7 linked regions of the Homo sapiens genome follow. The protein of the gene in region 3 purifies or fractionates together with the protein of the main gene of each other region. This does not show direct contact. Each region holds a gene or a part of one and is shown on either strand. Other genes may lie near its edges.

Region 1 (4,238 bases), about 200 Mb from region 3:
TCACCTCCCTCTTCAGTTGCACAAAGTGTGCGTGGCATCCTCACATCCCATCTGCCTCAATTTCGCTTTTTCTCTGAACACTTTTCACCATCTGTCTGAAGCACACACACACATTTTATTCACTTCCCCATTCCCATGCATGAATGCTAGGACCTTTGCAATTGTGGGCCAGGAAAGATTGCAAATGATAAGCCACCAGCACAGAGAGTAGAAATGAAATCCTGGGGTTACAAGCTAAAGCATTACTGACACCCACTTGTCCAGAACGGCTGAAGCTGGGCGGTGACTGTCAACAGGTATATACGGACTAGAAAGTGGAGCTGCTGGAGGAGGCCCTGTACCTTCCTGCCATGACACAGCCTCCCCCCAAGTGCTGGGCTTGTGTGCTCAACACTCCCTCTTGCTGTCATCCTACCACACCTGCAGACTGGAGGTAATCCAGATGCAAGGCCGTCGAGTCCCGCAAACACCCACCTGCCTCTTAATTTTCCAAGTGAGACCTACATTTCCTCAAGCGTGAAGCTCAATAAAATCAACTATTGTTTTCCGTTTTCATCACGAGCGCCACTTTCCCCCTATTTGTTCACCGCCTCCACTCCACAAGAACTGCTCTTGACTTGGCCAACTTTCTGGGACACCCTCACTACAAGGATTTATGAGTCAAACAGGTTTTTGTGCTAGCCTGGAAATCTAACTGCTGACAGCAGTTGTTTCAAGAAGAAAATGCTGTTTTGGAACCAAACAGCAGGCTGCCAACTGAAACAACATAAACCCACCTCCAAGTTCAAATGAAACAAACAAACAAAAAGACTGGTCCAAGTGAGGCAAGCTGTGGTGGCTCACACCTGTAATCCCAGCACTTTGGGAGGCCAAGGTGGGCTGATCACGAGGTCAGGAGTTCGAGACAAGCCTGGCCAACACAGTGAAACCCGTCTCTACTAAAAATACAAAAATTAGCTGAGCGTGGTGGTGGGCGCCTGTAATCCCAGCTACTCAGGAGGCTGAGGCAGGAAAATCACTTGAACCCGGGAGGTGGAGGTTGCAGTGAGCCGAGATTGTGCCACTGCACTCCAGCCTGGGCAACAGAGCTAGACTCTGTCTTAAAAAAAAAAAAAAAAAAAAAAGACTGGTCAAAGTGGCTTACGTCTGTAAGATCAGCACTTTGGGAAGTGGAGGCAGGAGGATCTCTTGAGGCCAGGAGGTTGAGACTAGCCTGGACAACACAGTGAGACTCTATCTCTACAAAAAATTTTATAAATCAGCTAGGTGTGGTGGTGCAGGCCTGTAATCCCAGCTACTCAGGAGGCTGAGGTGGGAGGATCAATTGAGCCCAGGAATTTGAGGTTACAGTGAGCTATAATCATGCCACCATAAACACGCCTGGAGGACAGAGTGAGGCCCTGTTTCTAACATACACACACATATACACACAGAAACATCTCGAGAGGACACCTCCAAATGATGAAGCTATTTTGTTGGGTACTGCGGTGGCACCTGTGATTCCTCAAGTAGCTTGGAATCAGCGTGCTAACACCATAAAGTGGCTGCAAAAGTCCCAGTGAAGTCACTGCTGAGAGCAAACAGGCCTTACAGAGAAGTTCCAAGGGGACAGGAAATTTCCAGAGGCTTGAGAGGACAATGTTCAGGGGAATAAGTACTTGAAGGGAATTATCTAACAAGGTGTTAAAGTAACTAGCTTCTTAGACAAGATGACATCAGGAGGAAAAAAAAACTTATTAAGGCAAACATGTCAGTTTCAGGCCAACTAAGGCTGTCAGAGAGACATGGAACACAAGAAGAGAAGAGTTTTGAAATGTATTCCCATCAAGAGCCAAGAATAATGAACTTTTGAATGTAAAACTTAGTGTGTTCCAAAACAAGAAAGGAAAAATAACTTGTTACTCGGAATCGAAGCCAAAAGGAATCTCATTGCTTGGGGAGGAGGGATGGGAGGGTGGGGGTGGTCCTTGGCCTGGGAAGGAAAACTCCACCAGGCCTTCGGAGCTGGGCACGCCCTGTTCCCACAATTAAGAAAAAAAACGACGACCTAGAGCTCAAGGCCGGTGCTGACATCTGACCTACTGGATGGCAGCCGCCTGTAGGAACATCACCATAGACTATTGGAATTTTCTGGCAAGTACTGGGCACTAAATCAGAGATGTGTTTTTAGAGAATTCCATGCCAATACTGCTGTATAGAATCTTTTATTCATACTTTCCCACTAGGTTTGGGCCCCTCTAAGCTTTCACGAGTCAAAGACCCCTCCTGCTTGCTGAAACCACCCACGGAAGGCCGGACACCGAGGACCTGGCCGCCCAAGCAGAGGCGACTGACAAGCGCGGTCCGGGCTGGACGGCCCCACCTTCCCCGCCCGGGAGAGCCAGGCCGGACAGCGGCCTCCCTCAGACCCGTCCCCAAGGCCGAGCCTCGCCCTGGGCCGTGCTGGTGCCCCATTCGGGACGGAGCGGTGGCCCGTCAGCACTTCCACGGCCTCCTCAGCAGGCCAGATGGGCAGGGCCGGCCTGGTGTCTCCCCGCCTGGCCGCGCGCTCGCGGGCAGCGATGACCCCAGGCAGCGGGCGACCCCAGGCGGACGGCAGGCCGGGTCTGCTCACTCACCGTTCGCTGCCGCGGGCGCCTGCGGGGGCGTCTACATGCCGGACCGAGCCCGCAGGCCCCGCCGCCGCGCCGCCGCCAGCCGTCGCTACCTGGCCCTTGGCGCCCTGGCCGCCTGTTGCCCCATGGCCGCCCGGACCCCGGCGCCGGCGCCGCCGAGCAGCAATGCGCCGCGCCCGCCCACTGCGCAGGCGCACCCGCCACGCATGCGCGCTGCCGCGCACGTGGGGCGTCCCGCGCGTCTGCCGGGTCCCACCGGCGCCGGGACACCCCGCGCGGGCGGGAGGCGGCGGGCGTGGCGGGAAAGAGGCGGGCGGTGGGGAAGAGGGGCGAATCGCGGTGGAGAGCAGTGACCAGGGAGTGGAGGCGGGCAGCGGGGACAGGGGCGGGCGTCCGCGACTCGGGTAGGCGGGGGTCGGCGCCCCGAGGAGGGCGGCCCCCGGCTCCCGTCCCCACTCACCTGCCGCGTCCGGAGGGCGCCCCCGGGTCCGCCCGCCACGTCTACGCCTAGGCGCCCCCGACATTGTGATCCCAGCCCGGCGTCCCGCCCCCAACTCACCGCCACCGCGGGCGGGACCTCCCGGACCACGTGGGCCGGCTCAGGGGAGTGCAGGTGCCCCGCGAGAGCTGGCCCCGCCCGCCGCCGCTTCCCTAATTACCGGGCTGTGACACGGTGTGGGCCGAGCCGGATTTGGGAACCGAAACTTAGAGCAGCTGCGGCAGCGCTGCGCTCCCTCGGGGCTGTCCGTCGGGGCTGGGAGGGCGGCCCTGCGCCTGGGGGAACCGCGATCGGCCTCACGCCCACCTCTAGCGGCCAGGTGCGCCTTGCACGCCCACGAACGTCCTCAGAGGTCTACGCTTGGGATCCCAAGGCTGGCAGTGGAGGGAGGACCCGGTGGCCTGGGGCACCTCTAGGGGGACCAGGGAGCCGTGTTTTGCGCACCCCACAGGCTGGAGGACTCGGGGAGTTGGGGGAGGAGGCCAAAGCCACAGGAGCGGACTTTGTAGTGTTTGTTGGAACTGCGGGTCCCACCCAGCCCGCACTTGCTGAACTGGTGGCTGCTCATCAGCGCCTTCAGGCCTCAAATATCCCAATAATGTGCCCTATACCCAGTTCTCAGCTCTCGAGTCACTGTCAGGTAAACTGGCAATGCACGACCAGCTGCTCTAACCTGCTGGTCCCCCAGGTGCCAGACATTGTTTTGTTTTTCTGAGATAGTGTCTCATTCGTCCCCCAGGCCGGAGTCCAGTGGCGGGCTCACGGCTCACTGCAGCCTTGACCTCTCAGGTGCAAGCGATCCTTCCACTTCAGCTTCCCTAGTAGTTGGGACTACAAGTAGGTCCCGCCACACTCGACTACTTCATTCATATATATATATATTTGTGTGTGTGTGTGTGTGTGTGTGTAGAGATGAGGTTTTACCATTTTGCCCAGGCTGGGTCTCAAACTTCACCCGCCTCGGCCTCCCAAAGTACTAGGATTATAGGCGTAAGCCACTGCACCTGGCCCAGCCATTGTTTTCTGAGGTTCAGTCCCTGTCTATACTTTCTGTGTGATCACCTGGCCCAGGGTCGGTGTGGACCTGAGTCCTCTGCAGCCCTTCCCCACACCCGCATACCTGC
Region 2 (4,247 bases), about 22 Mb from region 3:
TGTTGGACCTTACGTTTCAGCAACCTCACCATGGCCACATAACCCACAACCTTTTAAAACAGTTTCTTTCATAGCAATCCCTGTTTCTGCCAGACAGATCTAAAATGGGAGTTTCTCACTGTGTTTATCTGATCTGCACACTTTATATCCAGCTGTTTTGGCACTTTTACGTTTTCTTCACCTTTGGTTTTGGTTTGCAAATTCTTACACCTTCTCTCCAAGCGGAGGGCACACTGTGGTCAAAATCACTTATTTTATTAGGAAAAAGAGGTAACTGTTCCAAAGTGTAGTGTCCTTTGTTGAAGGAGGAGGGATGTAAGCATAGATTTGTTCTTGTTTCTGGCTATTCTCAGCTCAAGCCATGTTTAATTCATTCTTTGTAAAAGCCTTCAATTGTGCCACAGAAAACCTGGTAAGAGAATTGTCAGTTTCATTGGCCATAAGTATGTAATGTGGGTGATGTCTTGCCATTGAGGTTTGGAAGCTCTTAAGTGCCGATTATGGATTACAGAGGGCTGATAAAATTACTTATATTGGGAATTGAGAGAAGCCCCAAAAAATCAAATGTGCTTTTGATGGATAGAGTGTATCTTATTAGCATTATGGGAGCTCCTTAGAGGGCTGTCTTCACTGAAAGATTTAATGCCCAAAACATTTGGACAGATTATGCAGCCTTCTACTACCAGGTTATCTTGAATGAAGAAGAAATAGTAAAAAATAATAATAATAGAGCATTACCAATAAGCTAAAAGTTCAGAGTTGCTGATAGATGTTAAATGTTAAGTTATCCTGTGAGCCTACTCCTGTCCAACCTTTTTTCTCAGTATTTCTTTAGAGAATGCTGCAATCTGTATAAGTTACTCTGAAGGATTTTTTAAGAAGAGAAGCCACCAACAGGTGATAATTTTTATGGAGATGTTTCTTAATTGGCTTTCCCTCAGTTCAAGTAGGTAAATAACTTTGTTTGCTGGGAGGAGGTACATGGCTGAAGAGAGGCAAATAGATTAAGATAGCAATGTCTTGCACTTCCTGTTTCCCTCAAAACAACACCACATTGTGGGGCGCAGGATAGATCAGGGTTGAGTGGAATTTGGAATTCAGGTGAAGTGCTTGTAAAGTGCATGTCTAGCTGACAACAGACTTGACCATTAATGAGGACAGTGTTGGTAGGAGTCAGAAAAGAGCTTCATATTCCCCTTTTATATTACTGAAGCAATAAGCAATCTGAGCTGAAGCAGCAAAAAGAGTCACATTTCCATCAGGTCATCATATTCCCTGAGTCTCTGCAGCAAAAGCCATGTCAGAGGGGAGATTATAACTAGGTAACTATAACAAGCACTTGAGCACTTACCATGTTCCAAGCACTATCACCAAGGTACTGTTGGGGTTTATGGCAGTCTAACGGTAAGAAAAATGTGGTAAAATGAGGTAATCATGCTGCTATAGCTTTTTGCTTTTTTTCATATAGTATCAAGTTGGTCAGAATTAGCTTTCTCTGACTGGTCTGCTTCCGTGTTTCTCTGTGATGGTGTTAAGATTATGAAAGAAAAAGAAGATTACCTAAGACTGCTACAAGTGTTAACTATATGCCCTTAAGAATGAGCTTGACTTTGGAAGTAAAGCTTTTCAGATCTTAGTCTACCCGGGGCCTTTGTTGATGGGTCTGTGGTTCTGTAGACCCCTGGCTTTCACTGTGTTCTCAGAGGTACACCAGATTGAGAGCAGAGTTCTTCTTTGGAAGTCCCAGAGCAAAATAACTGCCATCAAGTGAGTTTGCATTCGTATTTGTTTCCCCTTCCATAGAGGGTTAGTTTTAGTTACCTCTAGCTTGGAGTTCCTGAGAAGGCTGGTTATAGGACTGAGCGTGGGAAAGGAACCCTCTTCAGGATTACCTCAGTCCCATCAGTCTACCCCATTGTGACATTGAGCCCAACACACACGCTTGACACCAGACTAGACTTGTCACAGGGCCAAACCCAACAGCCACATGCCATAGCTTCACTGCATTTTCAGCTACACCTTTGGAGGCCACCTTCTCCTATCAACTGTGGAAAGCCAGAAGGGCTCCCTTCTCCATTCTCCTTCCCTTTTTCAAGTCTAATAGTGAAATCTCCTGCTTACCCCAGCAGTAAATAGTTGCCTTCCTACCCCTTACCTGGGGGCCGATAATTTGAGATACTTTGTTTTTTCAATGCGTCAGTTGAAGGATTTAGTTTCTTAAAAGCAAGAAATGTTGGAGTGTTGAATTTTTAAATAGAATCTCTTTTCATGTTTGAATGATTGTTATTAGTTCTAGAAGCATTCTCTTTGTCATGACCCGATTATGTATACTCTTGGGTTTAGGAAGGACAAAAGTGATGAAATTTGCATGAGATAGAATAAATATCTTAGGAGGAGTGAAAGAACCTGAGGAAGAGACACGACCCTAAGGGAATGAATGCATAAGCAGTCTTCTCAGTAGCCCAGAGTTTCCAGGAAACAGGAATATTTATATCCCTTGCCCACTCTTAAAATACATAGATACATAAAAAGGCAGTCTCTGTAGACAACACATGCACACACCCACACAAAACATAATTCCTGGGGCTTCCTTTTTCTGAATGTTAATCCATTTTATCGAGCAGTGATTCCCAAACTTTGAGATTTTCAGATTTTATGCTCTCGTCTGTTAGATTTTATGACATTCTATCATCCTAAAAAATGTACTATATGTGTTATATGTATATATAAGTTAAAGCAACTTGAAATTGACTTGGTTTGGCATTGTCTCAAGAACCCTAGATATCATTATTGATACCATGGGGAATCATAGAAATAAAGTTGAATATCATTGATCTGAGAGTAGGATCCAGAAATAAGTAGTTTCAGTTCCTGATCAGTTAAGCCTCAAGTGTTTGAGTAACCAACACAGCAAGACTTGGGAAATGCAGTGAGCACCCGAGGAAAGGAAAGTGGTAGTCTTTGCCTGCATTTCAGCATGCATTTTCCTTTCCTACTCAGTTGCTATCTTCCACTTAAATACCCTCATTTGACCCTAGGAAGTTTTTTGTTTTTTTTTTTAGTTTGAGACTTAAAACCAGATTTATTTGTTGTTGTAGAGAGATTTCCACAGAAGTTGTGTTTTAGGGACCTCCATCATCTTTGTGGGGGTACAGATATTTATGTGTAAATATCATTTTATGTGATTTCCAAATTTTCGAGGGAAACATTTCAATTCCCAGTTCAACAAAAGGTTAAATACTAATTGACTCAATGACCACCTTCAGGAAAGTTAAATAGTAAATTAGGTTAAATTTTGACTGGTGCTTAGACATTTCCTAGTTATATTAACTTAAGCAGACAGCAGCACATTAACCTGAGTTACACCTGTGAGGAAATGACCTTCTAAATTTGATTTTGTTTTTCATCTCCAGGGCCTTAATAAGAGTGTGTTAACACACGACTATTTTACAATGATAGCTCTAAATAATTTATTTTTTATTTCAAGAAAGAGAAATACACCTTAGAAAAACAAAACCCAAGATTTTATTTTATTTTTAAAGCCATATTTTTGTGCTAGTAGCATTTAGATTATTCCGTATGTGAGATCCGTATCAGCATTTCATTACCTGGGTTTGTTCTAAAGAAGATTTATTTTTGTTCTGTGAATAATTTTTGACAGTTCTTGTACATGTACAGATATAGATACGTTTGAGGTCTTTTATTGATATTCCTACAAAGAATACAAATAAACTTTAACTTTAAACATTTCAGACTAAAGTTGCTACTATATTTGACATATTGCTGTCTTCTAGCATGCACCTGGGTGACTAGGACACTTGAAGAGAAACAAGAAAGGAAATGTATGCCGGAATATTCTTCTAAAAATATATTTTAACATTAAGAACAGTCTGTCCTAGAATTTCCCAACTTCCATGTAATAAGATTTCAATTTAGGAAAAATAACTAGCATTAGCATGTATTGTGATAAAACTGTTACTTTCGAATTCTGCAGAATTTGAAATCTCTTTAATAACTTGTGACAGGTAAAGAAAGTTTCATCTGGTTTATTAGGAAATGTAGCCCCACTTAGCTTCCTAGACCACTACCATCCTCTTGTAATTTTCCAGTTAGATTAATGGGGTTTGTTTTCAGGATTTTTGATGTTTGGTTCAGGTTTTTTATTTTAATTTCTTAATAGAAGTTCATTTGTCATTCCCAACATGATTGTTCCCAAATACACCCATCTTCTCCTGCATCCCTGTTTC
Region 3 (3,500 bases):
AACATATTTTAACAAAGCAAAGGGAAAAAAAGAATAATTTAATTTACCTTTATGGATGAAGCAGCATAGAGCATATCTTCCAGAGTGAAATGGCAACACTGGTTCAAGTATTCTTGGCAAAATTCTTGAATCAGCTGCAGATTATACAGGCTATCAGCCAAAGACATAGTTTCTTTCAAACAAATATCTTCAAATAAGAAAAGAGCAAGGTGGTGACTTTGGATTAATTTGATAATAAATATTTCATATCCATCTTGTAATTAGTACAAATACACAATTCTGGTTAACAAACATACATTTATAAATATAGTAGTCATTATACATTAAGACTTAGAAACCGAGCACTATTTTTTTTTGAACTACCTCCCTCAGAATTATATATAAATGTTCTTTATTTTTAAAAAAAAGTCTTCAGTACTTATTAAATAATATTGTCTTTTTTTTGAGACAGGGTCCCACTCAGTCACCTAGGCTGGAGTGCAAAATAATACTGTCTTAAATATTGGTTACTATCTGTCTACAGTTCAGAAGTATTACAATGGAACACTTACCCTCTAATCTGACAACATCAGGACAGTAAAAATGAATAAGGGCAGCTAATGCACAGCCATCTGTCCCATCCTTCAACAAATTTTCTACCAATGGAATGCAAGGCAGTTGCTTAAGCAATGTTTGCTCTTTCCGATAACGAGCCTACGATATAAAAAAAATACATGAAAATAAATAAGTACCAAATAACGCATAGGAAAAAAATCAGTACTGTAAATTCTAATGTACCAGTAATAAAATAAATCATGAGAAATGAGACCACTCACCAATATTTCTTTTTTTCTAAATAACGCTAGGTATTACCAAAGTTAAATACACGGCAACAATAGCTATAGTTTTGAAGCTCAATACTTAATATAACATACTGCTAATTTACACTAACTGACATTTGGCTTAAATATTTAAGTATAAAAGCATCACAAAACAGATTTTGAACACTTTGTATCCAAATAATCAGTTCTGCTCTTTTGAAGATAATAAAATTCATCTACTTTAATTCAGACTTAATTTAAACTGAAAATTCTTATACGGGAAGAGCAAGAATACTATTCAAGCAGAAAGAGTTATCAAAATGAGGGGGAAGGTAAAAGAATATACTATTCTTAAAAGAAATTTGAGGAACTGGAATAGTATCACCAAGACATTCTGGGTTATTATCTGAATGTTGAGGAAACACAAATAGTTAACAACTTTGAAAGTGAAAAAAAAAAAAACCCTTCCAACTTAGATTTCATTAATAATTGAGCAAGTATACGGGTTCTTGCTCCCCCTCAGAAAAAGAGAAGAAACCTTTGTTTCCTAAAGATTGTTTGGTGTGGCTAGATAGAATTTTTAAAAATAGATCTCTAAAAAATGAGACATGCTGTAATAGTTAAGAGAACAAATTCAGATCCTGGTTCAGATCCTGGTTCTGCCACTTACTAGTTTTGTGATCTTGGACAAGTTACTTAAACTCTCATTTCTCATTTTCCCATCTGTAAACTGGCGTAATAATAGTACCCACTTCATAGAACCACTGGAAGATTAAGTAAGATGATGGACACAAAGTGCTATGCATCCTGCTGGGCACACAGCAAGCAATCAATAAAGGTTAGCTATTATTAGCTGTTAACTCTTCTAAAGCCAAGTAAAATAATGCTGAAGATTTAGTGAATGTACACACGAAAGTATTTTGCTAGCAAAATATATAACATAAATTACTGGTAGTTTTTTTAAGGTTATCAAACTATTTTTTCTTCTAATTCCATCTAAATTGGTCATCTCTATAGTTTAGAATTAAAATATAATTATAAGATAAAACACTTTTGTGAGAATAAAAATAGAAAAATAAAAATTTACTGAAAGAGAACACAACATTTGGTAGTGAAGTTAGATTTCTTTTCAATGCTATCTCTCAGAAAAGCATCAGCATTAATGAAGAAGGAGATACTTATTCCTGGATTTCTCTCACTGGCTACCCAAGGACAAAATTCATGGAACATGTTTTCCTCTTAAAGATTTCTGAAGGTTCTTGTTAATTAGTGCATAATAGACTCCGTATTTAAGAGTACATCCCTAATTCAGGGGGTAACTATATTCAGAAAAAAATTACTTGCAGGTACTATATGGATTCTTTAATTGATTCTGATTTTAACATAATTCTTAGAAAATTCCTCACTTTGCAGCTAAGAAACAGCTTAAAATCAACCATGGGGAGGGAAGAGGAAGGAAGAAAGAAAAAAGAAATCAACCAGTACAGCGGTATCTTCTAGGCTTAAGCTACCGTTCTCACAATTAGTATCTGTTCCAGATCCTTACATGCTTTTCTTTGGTTATCTGGGATAAAAACAGTCTGCCTCTTGGACATCCTCAAAATTGGGCTGGGACTAGTAGTTTGTTTTCAGCCTATGACCTGAATTGGACTAAGCCAAGCACCCAGGGTCATGCAACAAAGAATTGAATTATGTGATTTGTTCTACTCCCTCCTGCAAAGTAGCACTTTTGTACAAGGTATGTGCAAACAGGCACATGTATGTGCACGTGCACACACACACACACACACACAGCTTTATATGACATTAGCAATAAGTATCTATGGTTTAGACTAGACAGAGAATTATGAATGGGATGCCAAAACATTTTCCTAAAGATTGTATTCTAGAAGATATATTAAGTAAACCAACTTTAAATCTTGAGATTATGTCCAGCACTCAGAAGGTTCATCCGCAGTTCATGAAAGAGTCTTTTGTACTTGAACATGCTATTTGCTTTATAAACTTATTGCATGGAAACATGCCCTTTCTTTCTGCAAACTAAGAAGTTTGGCATTTAGAAAGAACCCCCTATATTTTTATATTTCAACATTATGGTATATTTATTTTCTTCTCCTTTTTTTTGTTGTTTGTTTTATTTTTATTTTATTATTATTATTTTTTTTGGAGATAGCGTCTCACTCTGTTACCCAGGCTGGAGTGCAGTGGCACAATCATGGCTCACTGCAGCCTCGACCTCCTGGTCTCAGGTGATTCTCCCACCTCAGCCTTTTGAGTAGGTGAAACCACAAATGTGTACCATTATGCCTGCCTCATTTTTCTATTTTTTGTAGAGATGAGGTTTTGCCAAGTTGCCCAGGCTGGTCTCAAACTCCTGGGATCAAAGGATCCACCTGCCTTGGCCTCTCAAAGTGTGGGATTATGCGCGTGAGCCACCGCACCCGGCCATTATGGTATATTTCTAAATTAGAGTTTTATTATCGAGGATGTAAAATAGTTCTTAAGTGGTTTAACACACCCATCCCCATATTTAAATCTGAAAGATCAATCTTTAAGTCAAATCAGAATTTAATATGGTTTTGGTCCGCTACTGGTGAGGTCACAGAAAACCTTCTGCTTTCTTAATCACACAAAAAGTGAAGTGTCATCTATAATTCAAGCTGAAAAGGAACTAGGTCTGTCAAAAAGATAATTTTTTAA
Region 4 (3,500 bases), on a different chromosome or scaffold from region 3:
AGGCTTTGAAGGCAACACTGCATTTCTTTTCACCAAACTGATTCTATTAGGATCATCCAAAGATCCAGAATGCTCAAGAGACTTTGCATATACCACAGAACTATCTTTCGGCCAACTCTTTTCAGTTAATGACAAATTATGAAGTGGTTCTATTGGTTTTGGGACATGTGGCTTATTGGTATTGGCCTTGACTGCAATGCTAGGAGAGGGCCGGGAAGTATGGCTTACATCGGGTTGATTTTGACTAACAGTTTTTCCTTGCGCTTCGTTTCTACTTTGACAAACAATGACACTTCTCTTTTGAGAACTGTTTTCATCATCTTCTACAAACACTTTTTTTCTATTAGGACACGTTGGAAAGGGGGCTTGAGGTGTTTTAGAAACGATGTTAGTCAGAAAGGAAATCCCAAGACTATAGCCAAGTTCTTGCACAGCAGCAAGGCTGCTCTTCTCAACAAATAGAGAGGAAGAATAAATGTAGTTTAAAACATTATCAAAAGCATCTGGCTCACAGAAGTCAAGCTGAAATACAGTTTGTGACTCATTTTCCTTATTTGTGAATAAACTCTGAAAGTATTCGCTGCTGGCAGCCAAGACGTTTTTATGAGCTCGGAACTTTTGGTCTCCAACAATCAGCAGCACATCACACAGCTGTCCTTTGAGACGCTCCTCATTCAGGGCACTTAGGAGAGAAATGGCGTGTGCAGGGTTGATGTAATGCAGTAATCCCTCCATGGCTTGAGTTTATCTAAAAGACAAAATGTAAAATTACTACAGATATTGCAGTGAAAAGTTCCCCTGGCTCCTCAAGAGCAGGGAACATCAGCTGTCTTTGCATAGGTACCAATATTTAGCAGACCGTAGGCTAACAGAAGCTCTATGAATGAACAATCTTATTTAAATAATGGTGAAAATGTAAAATAAGTCTCGTGGTTTAAGTAGGTCCTCATTAAAATAGAAGAATTGCAGGAACTATAATATAGGCATTTGTATATCATCAAAAAGGCTGCCAGAACTTGGCAGGTAGATATGGAAGCAATATTTGAAAATAAAGGTTTATTATTTAGGGTCCTTATCCATTTGATGCTTGGCACTATTCCTTACCAATTCAGAAAACAAGTACGAATTATCAAACCCCTGAAGTCTATAATTCTGAAAGAAAATCAGCTTTATTACTACATATACTTAAACATAATGTGAACTGTTAACAATTGGTTGCAAAGCAGGTCTTGTGAGACCCTTGTTTTTATTTTGAGACAGGGTATCTCTCTGTCACCCAGGCTGGAGTGCAGTGGCACCATGATGGCTCACTGCAGCCTCAATCTCCTGGGCTCAAGCAATCCTCCCACTCAGCCTCCTGAGTAGCTGGGACCACAAGCACATGCCACCTTGCCAGGTGATGCGGTTTGGTGGTGTCCCCACCCAAATCTCCTCTTGAATTGTAACTCCCACAATTCCCACGTCGTGGGAGGGACCCAGTGGGAGGTAACTGAATCATGGGGGTGGGTCTTTCTCGTTCTCTTCTCATGATAGTAAGCCTCATGAGATCTGATGATTTTATAAAGAGGAGTTCCCCTACACAAGTTCTCTCTTCCCTGCTGCCATGTGAGATGTGACTTGCTCCTCCTTGCCTTCCACCACGATTAAAAGGCCTCCCCAACCACGTGGAACTGTGAGTCCACTGAACCGCTTTTTCTTGTAAGTTACCCAGTCTTGGGTATGTCTTTATTAGAAGTGTGAAAATGGACTAATACAGTAAATTGATACCAGTAGAGTGGGGCACTGCTGAAAAGATACCCGAAAATGTGGAAGCGACTTTGGAACTGGGTAACAGGCAGAGGCTGGAACAGTTTAGAGGACTCAGAAGAAGACAGGAAAATGTGGGAAACTTTGGAACTCCCTAGAGACTTGCTGAATGGCTTTGACCATAATGCCAATAATGATACAGACAATGAAATCCAGGCTGAGGTAGTCTCAGATGGAGATGAGGAACTTGTTGGGAACTGAAGCAAAGGTGACTCGTTATGTTTTAGCAAAGAGACTGGTGGCATGTTGCCCCTGCCCTAGAGATCTATGGAACTTTCAACTTGAGAGAGATGATTTAGGGTATCTGGCAGAAGGAATTTCTAGGCAGCAAAGCATTCAAGAGGTTCTCAGGTGCTGTTAGAGGCATTAAGTTTTATAAGGGAAGTAGAGAATAAAAGCTTGGAGAAGTTGCTGCCTGACAGTGCGATAGAAAAGAAAATCCCATTTTCTGAGAAGAAATTCAAACTGGCTGCAGGAATTTGCCTAAGTAAGGAGGAGCCGAATGTTAGTCACCCAGACAATGGGGAAAATGTCTCCAGGACATGTCAGACCTTTGCAGCAGCCCCTTCCATCACAGGCCCAGAGGTCTAGGAGGAAAAAATGGTTTTGTGGGCCAGGCCCAGGGCCCCCTTTCTGTGTGCAGCCTAGGAACTTGGTGCCCTGTGTCCCAGGTGCTCTAGCCATGGCTGAAAGGGGCCAAGGTACAGCTTGGGCCATGGCTTCAGATGGTGCAAGCTCCAAGCCTTGGCGGCTTCCATGTGGTGTTAAGCCTGCAGGTGTGCAGAAGTAAAGAACTGAGGTTTGGGAACCTCCGCCTAGATTTCAGAGGATGTATGAGAACACCTGTATATCCAGGAAGAAGTCTGCTGCAGGGCTGTGTCCCCTCCATGAGGGGCAGGGCCCCATGGAGAAACTTCTGCTAGGGCAATGCAGAAGGGAAATGTGGGGTTGAAGCCCCCACATAGAGTCCCCACTGGGGCACTGCCTAGTGGAGATGTGAGAAGAGGGCTACCATCTTCCAGACTCCAGAATGGTAGATACGTCGACAGCTGGCACTGCGTGCCTGCAAAACTCACAGACACTCAATGCCAGCCCATAAAAGCAGCCAGGAGTGGGGGCTATACCCTGCAAAGCCACAGGGGCAGAGCTGCCTAAGACCATGGGAGCCCACCTCTTATATCAGCTTGACCTGGATGTGAGACATGGAGTCAAGGGAGATCATTTTGGAGCTTTGAGATTTGACTGTCCTGCTGAATTCTGGACTTGCACCGGGGCCTGTAAGCCTCTGTTTTGGCCAATTTCTCCCATTTGGAACGGCTGTAGTTACCCAATGCCTGTACCCCCACTGTATCTGGGAAGTAACTAACTTGTTTTTGACTTTGCAGGCTCATAGGCGGAAGGGATTTGCTTTGTCTCAGAAGAGACTTTGGTCTGTGGACTTTTGAGTTAATGCTGAAATTAGTTAAGACTTTGGGGGACTGTTGGGAACGCATGATTGGTTTTGAAATGTGAAGACATGAGATTTGGGAGGGGCCCAGGGTGGAATGATACAGTTTGGCTGTGTCCCCAGCAAAATCTCATTTTGAATTGTAGCTCTCACAATTCCCCACATCTGGGAGGCACCCAGTGGGAAGTAACTGGATCATGGGGGCAGGTCTTTCTTATGCTCTTCTTGTGATAGTGAATAAATCTCA
Region 5 (3,500 bases), on a different chromosome or scaffold from region 3:
GGTCTTGAACTCCTGACCTCAGGTGATCCACCTGTCTCGGCCTCCCAAAGTGCTGGGATTACAGGCAGTGAGCCACTGTGCCCGGCCCCCTCCTCCTCTTTATACAGGCATATCTAAAGCCTCAATTCAAGACCCATCTTCAACCTACTCCATGAAGTCTTCTCTCCCACATCATTCTAGTCAAGACAGACTTAGTGCATTTAGTAACTGACATTCCATTAGTCTAACTAGGCTATAAAAGTCTTTTGATGTCAGGATGCATATTTATACTTATTTTTAAACACATACTGTTACAAATACAATAGTTAAAATAATTAAATTGGCAAATTGGTAATGATTAAATTGGTAAATTGATGATGCTGGCCTGAGTGATACATGCCTGAAATCAAGACAGAAATCTCTGTCCCCTACAGCATATCCAAACAAGTTAAATCAATCACAAAACCACTTGTTGTCTTCTAATTGTTTTAAATGTCTTGGGAGCATAATTTTTCTCCCCAATAAGACTGAATAAACTGCTTAATAACATCTAAAATTTTACACAGTTCCTCATTTCTGCCCCAGTACCTAATTGGAGTCAAGTACAAAACTGGTATCCATAAGTACATACTAAATTAAATGTACACCTTTTCTACTCTACAGAATACAAAACTTCAAGTTCTTTATTTAAAGATGTATTTTCTTGGATTCATTATGATTAATTAAAAGTTCAAAATCAATTAAAAAAAATTATGTGGTATGCCCAGTCACAAGAATACAGACAAACACTCAATTCACTACTTAGGCCAGGGCTACTTACAGATTACAATTAGGTGATATGAATTATTCTAAGACTTTCCCTTGTAAGGACTTTGCTATCCCTTCTGATGGAATAAGGCAACTATTATTTTAATAGAATTTGGCACATCTGGCTAAAATGGGGTAGAATGCTGCTTTCTTTTGCTGGAGTTAACCTTAAGAAAATACCAACAGATCTAATTATCAGATTCATGTTGACGAAAACCTAGTGAGTAAATAATGAAAAGAAAATCGAAAGGCAGCACTGGAAGAAAAGAACAAGAGCGTTAACACACAGATTTTTAAGCCTAAGTATACAACCAATTCCAGGCCATGGCCTTGAATCAAAGCTTTTTCCCATGTTAGTATATTCTCTTCTGACCCTTTACAATCTAAATCTATAAATCACATTAGTAAATAGAAGAAACAGTGATTGCCAACCATACGTAAGTAAATAAAATTTACTTGGAAATTCCTGCTCAAATCTACCAATGATTACGACTGAACAGTATGTTCTACATTATAGTACACTTCACTGCCTCTGCAAAATACTTCCTTCTAACTATACTATCAAACTACCTAAATCATCTTTATTTTTTAAAGATTTTTCTCTACAAATTTCTATCATTTTACACTATTTTCTGAGTCCACAGCTGGTCCCAGAATAATTACTGCACCTTGACTTATTTTTGCTATGAAGTTATTTTAGAAAGCTTCTTCTCAAAAAATACTAAAAATCACTAGTCTACATAAAGTCAGGAAATATTTAAATCAACATTAATTGTCTTTATCCCAAGACAGGTGTATATGTGCAAGGCTATAATATACTGTCTCTTAAATGTGTGCATTACAAATGGGTTATACCATCTCTTTGTATTTTTATACTAACAGATCCTTTTAGAGAAAGGTGATTCCATGTGACATTGTCTTGTAAGTACGCAGCTTATGTTACATAAATTTTATGTTGCGTAAGTGGGATAACTAAAAGTTCAAAATAAATGGACACACTACTAAAATATGGTGTGCCCGGTCATAGGAATACAGTAAGCCTAAAATTCAATTCAGTACTAAGGCCAGGGCTACTTAAGATTACAACTATGTATTGAGGTTGCAATTAAAATTACCTTCTGCCATTTCCTTAACGCCTAGTTAACAAGCAGCATACATATCAGAATTTAGAGAAAACTGGCGCTGAGCATCATTATACAGTGATCTTTTTTTAAAAACACTCACCTTCAAATGACTACATTCTACGTTACACAGAGAACACAAATGTGGAAATATTCTTGGAGATGCTGCATAATAATCATTCATCATAGAAGGAGTTGGAAGTCTCTTCATCTTCTGGGCATCAGCATGTGAAAACTTTGGTAGCCAGGATGCTTTCACAATACCAAAGGGAGACCGAATGGGAATGTCAGCCTGTGACTGGTAATTCTTTTTACTTCCTCTTGATCCAACATGTACGTTAGATGAATTAATCACAGGTTCATGTGGGATCCGCTCTTGCTGGCTTACAGATGAAATTAATTCCGACGAAAAAGGTTGCTGGTTCATAGATGGAGGAATCAGAGATTGACTCATTGTCTGGCTAACTGTTTGGTTAATGGATTGGTTGACGGATTTTATGGGTTCAAGGACTGACTGTCCTCCTGAAATGTGTAAGCCTGACATCTTGGTTCCACTCTCAACTGAGAAAAAGGACCGATTATTGGAGGACTCACCGGGGAAGTCCATTTGGCGAAATACGTCTTCAACAGGAAACATAGAATTACATATCACATTTGGATTGGGAACAGATGCAGAAATGTTCTGCTGTGACTGAAATTCATTCTCGACCTCATCAGTTGGAATTTCAGGATCATAAATACGTACTTCAAGTGGATCTTCTGTGTAGCCATATTTGCTTGCATGCCCATAATCGATCACATTACTTGAAACTGCTTCACTACCAAGTGTTTCTTTATTTCTGCTCTGAGAAGGTAAATTAGGTAATCGGCGCCCCATTTTTCGCATTCTTATATCCCTCAAAATTAATGGCATATTTTCAGGAGTTAGTTGTTCATCAGGATAGCGACTAAGTTCTTCTAGGTCTTCATTAGATAATCCAAAACTTGCTAAGATACTTGAGGCACTCTCTTTTGTATAGCGGCTCTGTACTTTGGGACTCTGCTCTGTAACCTGTGTTACAGAACTCTGTTTCACTGCCACTGATGCAGATATATGAGGCTCATCATCCCACCGGCTACCATGAGGCTTCCCCTTCTTCTGTTGTGCTTCATGAAAATCCAGTTTTTCTTTGGTCAATCTTGGATCAGTTCTGTGTTGAGTTACCTGAACATTCATTCTCTGTGGCCCCATGTTCTGATAAGATTCATGGCCAGCAAATCTGTGTGGAATTCCACGTGCTCTCCCTGCTGGGTAAAATCTTGGGAGACCCATAGATCCAGGCCTCATAAATGGTCCTGGAGGCCTCATCCCAGAAGGGTTAGGTGCTCGTGGCCTTTGAAGTGGAAAGTCTCCTCGAGGATTAAACCTGGGTCTCGACATGGCTATTTTCAAGAAAGCCTGATTTAATAAAGTATAAGGTGGTGTTGAACCATGTGAGGCAACGGCATTCAGCTGCTGAAGCGCCAACTGAGTCTTAATCTGAGCAAAGTGCAAAGGAGATGGGCCCAACAGAAGTGGGTTTGCAATGCCCAGGTTCAAGGAATTCACAAGTG
Region 6 (3,500 bases), on a different chromosome or scaffold from region 3:
GCCCGATGCTACCTCCTCCCCTGTCCAAACTTCTCCAACTCAGCTTCTGACTTTCTGTACTTTTTTGCTCACAGCTGTGCCCTCCTCCTGGGAAATTCTTACACGTCCTGCAAAACTCACCTGTCCAGTGCCCCTCCAGCACTGCCCCCACCCGACTTCCAAGGCAGGGCAGTCCCACGTGCCGTCACCTTGCCTCCAAAGTCACCGATGCTAATTAAGCTACATGCAAGACCTCGGCAAACCCAGCCCTTTCTGCGGGTGCCTGGTCCACTCTGGAAAGAACAAGATGAGCGGGGGTCCCCCAGCCTCTGCTACTCACCTCTGGGGACTCAGGTGCTGGGGGCTGTTCTTCTTCGAGGTGACTCAGTGGCACCATCTCTGCAAGATGAGGGAGGAGGCTCAGCTGGAGCCTCCCTGCCTCACCCTGCATCACCCAGCAATTTCCTGAGGCCTCTAGAGTTCTCACCCCAGGCTGGGGATGCAGTGCCTCCCCTGACCAGCTCTCATGACACTGTCATGAAGCCACATCCGGGAGGCTGGATGAAGCAATGACTTAGGAACCTTCTAGAAGGGCCAGTGGGCTGCCCTGGCTCTGAAGTGCTCAGTCATGATCAAACTTAGGCTCTGAGCCTTGAGCCTGTGAAGACGGGATGAGACACAGGCCCCCTGGGTGTCAGCTCCTAACATCTTCCTCAGCTCAGGGTGCAGCCCAGGTGGAGGGTCCAATATGTTCTTGCCCCAGGCCTTGGCAGAGGGGCAGCCCCTAGCGAATGCCTGGCAAACATGGTCCAGCCACAGACCACATGTGATCTGGCCTTAGGTACACCTGGGTTTGATTCCCTGCTCAGCCTTATCTGCCTGGAGCCTCAGTTTCCTCAGCTTTATTTTTTATTAGTATGATTATTTAATTTATTTATTTGACATGGAGTCTCGCTCTGTCACCCAGGCTGGAGTGCAGTGGTGTGATCTCAGCTCACTGCAACCTCCACCTCTTGGGTTCAAGTGCTTCTCCTGTCTCAGCCTCCCAAGTAGACGGGATTACAGGCGTGTGCCACCATGCCCAGCTAATTTTTGTATTTGTATTTTTATTTTTTGAGACGCAGTCTCACTCTGTCGCCCAGGCTGGAGTGCAGTGGCGAGATCTTGGCTCACTGCAACCTCCACCACCTGAGTTGAAGAGATTCTCCTGCCTCAGCCTCCCGAGTGGCTGGGATTACAGGCGCCTGCCACCACACCTGGCTAACTTTTGTATTTTTAGTAGAGATGGGGTTTCACCACATTGGCCAGGCTGGTCTTGAACTCCTGACCTCAGGTAATCCGCCTGCCTCGGCCTCCCAAAGTGCTGGGATTACAGGTATAAGCCACTACGCCCAGCCTAATTTTTGTATTTTTAGTAGAGACAGGGTTTCACCATGTTGGCCAGGCTCGTCTCAAACTCCTGACCTCAGGTGATCTGCCCGCCTTGGCCTCCCAAAGTGCTGGGATTACAGGCGTGAGCCACCGCACCCGGCCAAGTATGATTATTTCAGAGACAGGCTCTTGCTCTGTCACCCAGGCTGGAGTGCAGTGGTGCCATCATGGCTCACTGCAGCTTCAGTCTCCTAAACTCAAGCAATCCTCCCACCTCAGCCTCTCAAGTAGGTGGGACTACAGGCATTCACCGCCACGCCTGGCTAATTTTTAAAAATACTTTTTGTAGGCCAGGCGCGGTGGCTCACGCCTGTAATCCCAGCACTTTGGGAGGCAGAGGCGGGCGGATCATGAGGTCAGGAGATCGAGACCATCCTGGCTAACACAGTGAAACCCCGCCTCTACTAAAAATACAAAAAATTAGCCGGGCGTGGTGGCGGGCGCCTGTAGTCCCAGCTACTCGGGAGGCTGAGGCAGGAGAATGGCGTGAACCCAGGAGGCGGAGCTTGCAGTGAGCCAAGATCGTGCCACTGCACTCCAGCCTGGGCGAGAGAGCGAGACTCTGTCTCAAAAAAGAAAAAAAAAAATTACTTTTTGTAGAGATGGGGTCTTGCTATGTCACCCAGGCTGGAGTGCAGTTGTGCGACCATAGCTCACTGCAGCCTCAAACCCCTGGGCTCAAGCAGTCTTCCCACTTCAGCCCCGCAAGTAGCTAGGACTATAGGCATGTGCGATCATGCCTGGCTAATTGTTTTTTTAATAGAGACGAGATCTCAGTATGTTGCCCAAGCTGGTCTCAAACTCCTGGCTTCAAGTGATCCTCCTGCCTTGGCCTCCCACAGTGCTGGGATTACAAGTGTGAGCTACCATGCCGGGCCTCCCCAGCTTTCAATGGGGACAGTGGCAGGTCAGTCCCACTCCAGGTATGGTCCAACCTTAGGGTCTATGCCTATGCTGCCTGTTTCACTCTTTCCTTTGGATCTGCAACCTGGTCACCTCCTGCCCTCCAGGCCTCAGTTTGAACACTGCCTCCTCCCAGAGCCTCCCCCTGGCTACTGCTGGACCAGGCTAGGTCCAAGTTCAATGCTCCAGCTTTCAGTTCCTCTTATCCTGGCTATTTGTGGAAATTTTTTTTTTTCTCTTTTTGAGACAGGGTCTGGCTTTGTCACCCAGGCTGGAGGACAGTGGTGTGATCATAGCTCACTGCAGTCTCAACCTGCCAAGCTCAAGCGATCTTCCCACCTTAGCCTCCTGAGTAGCTGGGACTACAGGCGCGCACTACTACACCCAGCTACATCTTTTTTTTTTTGAAATGTAGGCTCACTCTTTCACCCAGGCTAGAGCACAGTGGCGTGATCTCGGCTCACTGCAACCTCTGCCTCCTGAGTTCAAGCGATTCTCCTGCCTCAGCCTCCCAAGTAGCTGGGATCTACAGGCACATGCCACCACACCCGGCTAATATTTGTTTTTAGTAGAGATGGAGTTTCTGCATATTGGCCAGGCTAGTCTTGAATTCCTGACCTCAAGTGATCCACCCGCCTCAGTCTCACAAAGTGCTGGGATTATGGGATTACAGGCGTGAGCCACTGCACCTGGCTGGCTGTGGGAGTTGTTTGTTTTTTTTTTTGAGACAGAGTCTTGCCCTGTTGCCCAGGCTGGAATGAAGTGGTGTGATCTCGGCTCACTGCAACCTCCGCCTCCAGGGTTCAAATGATTCTCCTGCCTCAGCCTCCCGAGTAGCTGGGATTACAGGCACACGCCACCACACCCGGCTAATTTTTGTATCTTTAGTAGAGATGGGGTTTCACCATGTTGTCCTGGCTGGTCTTGAACTCCTGACCTTGTGATCCACCCACCTCGGCCTCCCAAAAGTGCTGGGATTACAGGCGTGAGCCACCGCACCCGGCCGGCTGTGGGAGTTTTTGACCGTCTTCTTACCTACGGGTTGTCCTGTTTGACTCCAAGTTCACTTTCTGGGCCACAGTAAAGGCCACAGAAATTGGTAAAGTCATTTGTGAATTTGCAGGACAAAGGGAAGGCCACTGCTAACACTGGTCCCCAGGCTTCCTGACCATCTTAACGTGGCATTT
Region 7 (2,806 bases), on a different chromosome or scaffold from region 3:
TACTATGCAAGTAGAATTTTAAAAATTAGTTCCAGTTTACTCATTTCCCTTGAAAAGTACCCTTCTGCCACAATGTAAATAAAAAATGGTCCATAAAATGGTGACATTAGACAAATCATAATTTGTAGTGTGGGCCCTTTAAATGGAGACCAAATTTTTATTAATCCAAAGCTAGAGATTTTATTTCTTCCATATGCCCAAAGTAACTAATATCAACTCGCATTTTCTGTATGCCTTAAAGAATTTTTATTTAACATAATGAGAGTTTAATAACTTATATTAAAGACGGCGTGGTGCTCTTTCTGTTGCTGTTCACCAACTGTTTTTATGACGATAACTTCGAGATCTGGAATGTGACCGAAAATGAGAATGCTTTGCTGTTTGTACTTTAGTTTCAGAATTGGTATACCCTTTGGGAGATTTACACGGGGATCTTGCTATTGAGTCAGAATGTCTTCCATGTGATCTTGATTTTGTTCCTGAGCTAGTCTGCTTTTGAGGTGAACTTGACTGTGATTTTCCTATTGACTTGGACCTCTTTTGTAAGGACTTGGACCTTGACCGTCCTCTAGAGCCAAAATTCCTTCTTGGAGTTCTTGACTGCCTTGCTGAGGTAGACCGCCTTGGTAATGATTTGGAACGAGATTTAGACTGGCTATAAGAAAATCGCCTGTGTCGAGACCTGCAAACATCCATAATGTTAGAGCATATATTTCACACAAAATAAGAGATCAGGAAATAACACTTTCAGGAACTTACATACTTTACATAACATTAGTTATATTTTTACTAGATAAGCTAAAAAAATTTCTCATTTTATTATGCATGCTTTTGGTTCAAACATAAGTAACAAGTTTGTAATATTTGTTATACTAGAATATATGGCCAAAAATTTTTACTTTGCTAGACATATAGGGATCAGTTCTGAAAAATACACTGCATATTTGGTCTGAGTTATACAGCTCTTAAGAGGTACAAAAATCTGAAGAAAAAAAGATTAAAAAAATCAATTATTTACAGTTCAAATAATGCTTATAAAAATAAAAATCTAGATGTAGGACTTTTGGGTCCTGCCATGACAGAACAGCTTGTATTAGACTAATCTTCCCATAGAAAACAGCTCTCTCTCTCTCTCTCCATATATATATACATATATATATGTGTGTATATATATACACATATATATGTGTGTATATATGTGTGTGTATATATATATGTGTGTGTATATATATATGTGTGTATATATATATACACACACACACACACATACATGTTTTTTTTTTTTTTGAGACGGAGTTTCGCTCTTGTTGCCCAGGCTAGAGTGCAATGGCACGATCTCAGCTCACCGCAACCTCCGCCTCCCAGGTTTGAGCAATTCTTCTCTCTCAGCCTCCAGAGTAGCTGGGATTACAGGCATGCGCCACCACGCCCAGCTAACTTTGTATTTTCAGTAGAGATGGGATTTCTCCATGTTGGTCAGGCTGGTCTCAATCTCCCGACCTCAGGTTATCCCCCTGCCTCGGCCTCCTAAAGTGCTGGGATTACAGGCGTGAGCTACCACACCCAGCCGAAAACAACTATATTGAAAAGCTACACAACATTTATAAAACAACTGTTCGAAGGCACTGGAGGATAATCAACACAAGCAGGAAGAACCTGAGGGATTACAAGCCTTGGCTCTTTTACTAAGACCATTTTTCAAATGACAGCATGGAGGAGTTGAGCCCAACCAGAAAATGGCTATTTGACTAAGCTGAAGAGAGAAAAGTTAATTCAGGGCTACCAAAATGGGTGGGACACGAGAGGCAAAAACTCTAGAGAAGAGTGAATTAGAGACCAAAAAGTACCTCTAAAATTTGCCTACAAATTATCCTTAAATCACTGGCCATCTTCTAAGTTGTGTGTGTATGGAAGAGATTCCAAGGGACCAGCAAAAAACCGGAATTCAGAAATTCAAGAACTGCGCTGAAATTTTTATCAGACACACAGTGCTGAGAGAGAGATTAGAGTTCAAACTCCCAAAAGGTCAATGAGGAACATTAGGTAACAACCCAGAAGGGCTACAATCTAGAGGTAAGGGCCATGCCCTAGGAATAAATTCAAAGCCAAAACAAGCAGCTTTAACAACACCCAAAACCAAGCCTTAAGATCAAAGTGATCTGCCAGTACTCTGTCTACCAGAAGAAAACTGTCTTTGGAGAATGATAATGTCATGCAGAGCCTCTATAATTTTTTGTCCATGTCCACATGTTATGTTAAAAAAAAAAAAAACAGGCAAGAATAACTAAAAACTAAGGAAAATAAAAGGCAAAGAATCATTCCCAAAGTGATTTGGATATTGGCATCATCAAACAGGAATTTAAAAAATTACTATGAGTAATATATTTAAGAAAATAAGAGGAAAAGACAAAACAGATAAAAAGATCGTTCAGTGGAAAACTACAATCTATAAAAAGAAACAAATAGACATTTAAAACTAAAAATATATGATATCTGAAATTAAAAAGTCATTAGATGGTCTTAACAGCAATCTAGATATAGCAGAAGAAATAATGAACTAGACTGGGTGCAGTGGCTCATGCCTGTAATCCCACTTTGGGAGGCCAAGGCGAGTGGATCACCTGAGGTCAGGAGTTCAAGACCAGCCTGACTAACATGGTGAAACCCCATCTCTACTAAAAATACAAAAATTAGCCTGGCATGGTGGTGCATGCCTATAATCCCAGCTACTTAGGAGGCTGAGGCAAGAGAATCAATCACTTGAACCTGGGAGGCAGAGGTTGCAGTGAGCCAAGATCGTGCCATT

Evidence for each region.
Region 1: the proteins of CAMSAP2 (region 3) and NADK purify together in Homo sapiens (affinity purification with mass spectrometry, with the first as the bait; one large-scale study listed by BioGRID). This does not show direct contact.
Region 2: the proteins of CAMSAP2 (region 3) and RASAL2 purify together in Homo sapiens (affinity purification with mass spectrometry, with the first as the bait; one large-scale study listed by BioGRID). This does not show direct contact.
Region 4: the proteins of CAMSAP2 (region 3) and ZBTB21 purify together in Homo sapiens (affinity purification with mass spectrometry, with the first as the bait; one large-scale study listed by BioGRID). This does not show direct contact.
Region 5: the proteins of CAMSAP2 (region 3) and ZNF638 purify together in Homo sapiens (affinity purification with mass spectrometry, with the first as the bait; one large-scale study listed by BioGRID). This does not show direct contact.
Region 6: the proteins of CAMSAP2 (region 3) and MAST3 purify together in Homo sapiens (affinity purification with mass spectrometry, with the first as the bait; one large-scale study listed by BioGRID). This does not show direct contact.
Region 7: the proteins of CAMSAP2 (region 3) and SRSF12 purify together in Homo sapiens (affinity purification with mass spectrometry, with the first as the bait; one large-scale study listed by BioGRID). This does not show direct contact.

The regions. Positions count from the first base shown.
Region 1 is NC_000001.11:1,775,671-1,779,908, forward strand, and holds the start of NADK (NAD kinase), read right to left. Parts: upstream 2,801-4,238; 5' UTR 2,619-2,800; intron 1-2,618.
Region 2 is NC_000001.11:178,475,104-178,479,350, forward strand, and holds the end of RASAL2 (ras GTPase-activating protein nGAP), read left to right. Parts: 3' UTR 1-3,747; downstream 3,748-4,247. UniProt on the Homo sapiens protein: Inhibitory regulator of the Ras-cyclic AMP pathway.
Region 3 is NC_000001.11:200,829,393-200,832,892, reverse strand, and holds part of CAMSAP2 (calmodulin-regulated spectrin-associated protein 2), read right to left. Parts: intron 694-3,500; coding exon 552-693; intron 188-551; coding exon 48-187; intron 1-47. UniProt on the Homo sapiens protein: Key microtubule-organizing protein that specifically binds the minus-end of non-centrosomal microtubules and regulates their dynamics and organization.
Region 4 is NC_000021.9:41,993,361-41,996,860, forward strand, and holds part of ZBTB21 (zinc finger and BTB domain-containing protein 21), read right to left. Parts: intron 749-3,500; 5' UTR 736-748; coding exon 1-735. UniProt on the Homo sapiens protein: Acts as a transcription repressor.
Region 5 is NC_000002.12:71,348,782-71,352,281, reverse strand, and holds part of ZNF638 (zinc finger protein 638), read right to left. Parts: 5' UTR 3,328-3,500; coding exon 2,011-3,327; intron 1-2,010.
Region 6 is NC_000019.10:18,125,278-18,128,777, reverse strand, and holds part of MAST3 (microtubule-associated serine/threonine-protein kinase 3), read right to left. Parts: intron 379-3,500; coding exon 320-378; intron 1-319.
Region 7 is NC_000006.12:89,098,266-89,101,071, forward strand, and holds part of SRSF12 (serine/arginine-rich splicing factor 12), read right to left. Parts: intron 683-2,806; coding exon 313-682; 3' UTR 1-312. UniProt on the Homo sapiens protein: Splicing factor that seems to antagonize SR proteins in pre-mRNA splicing regulation.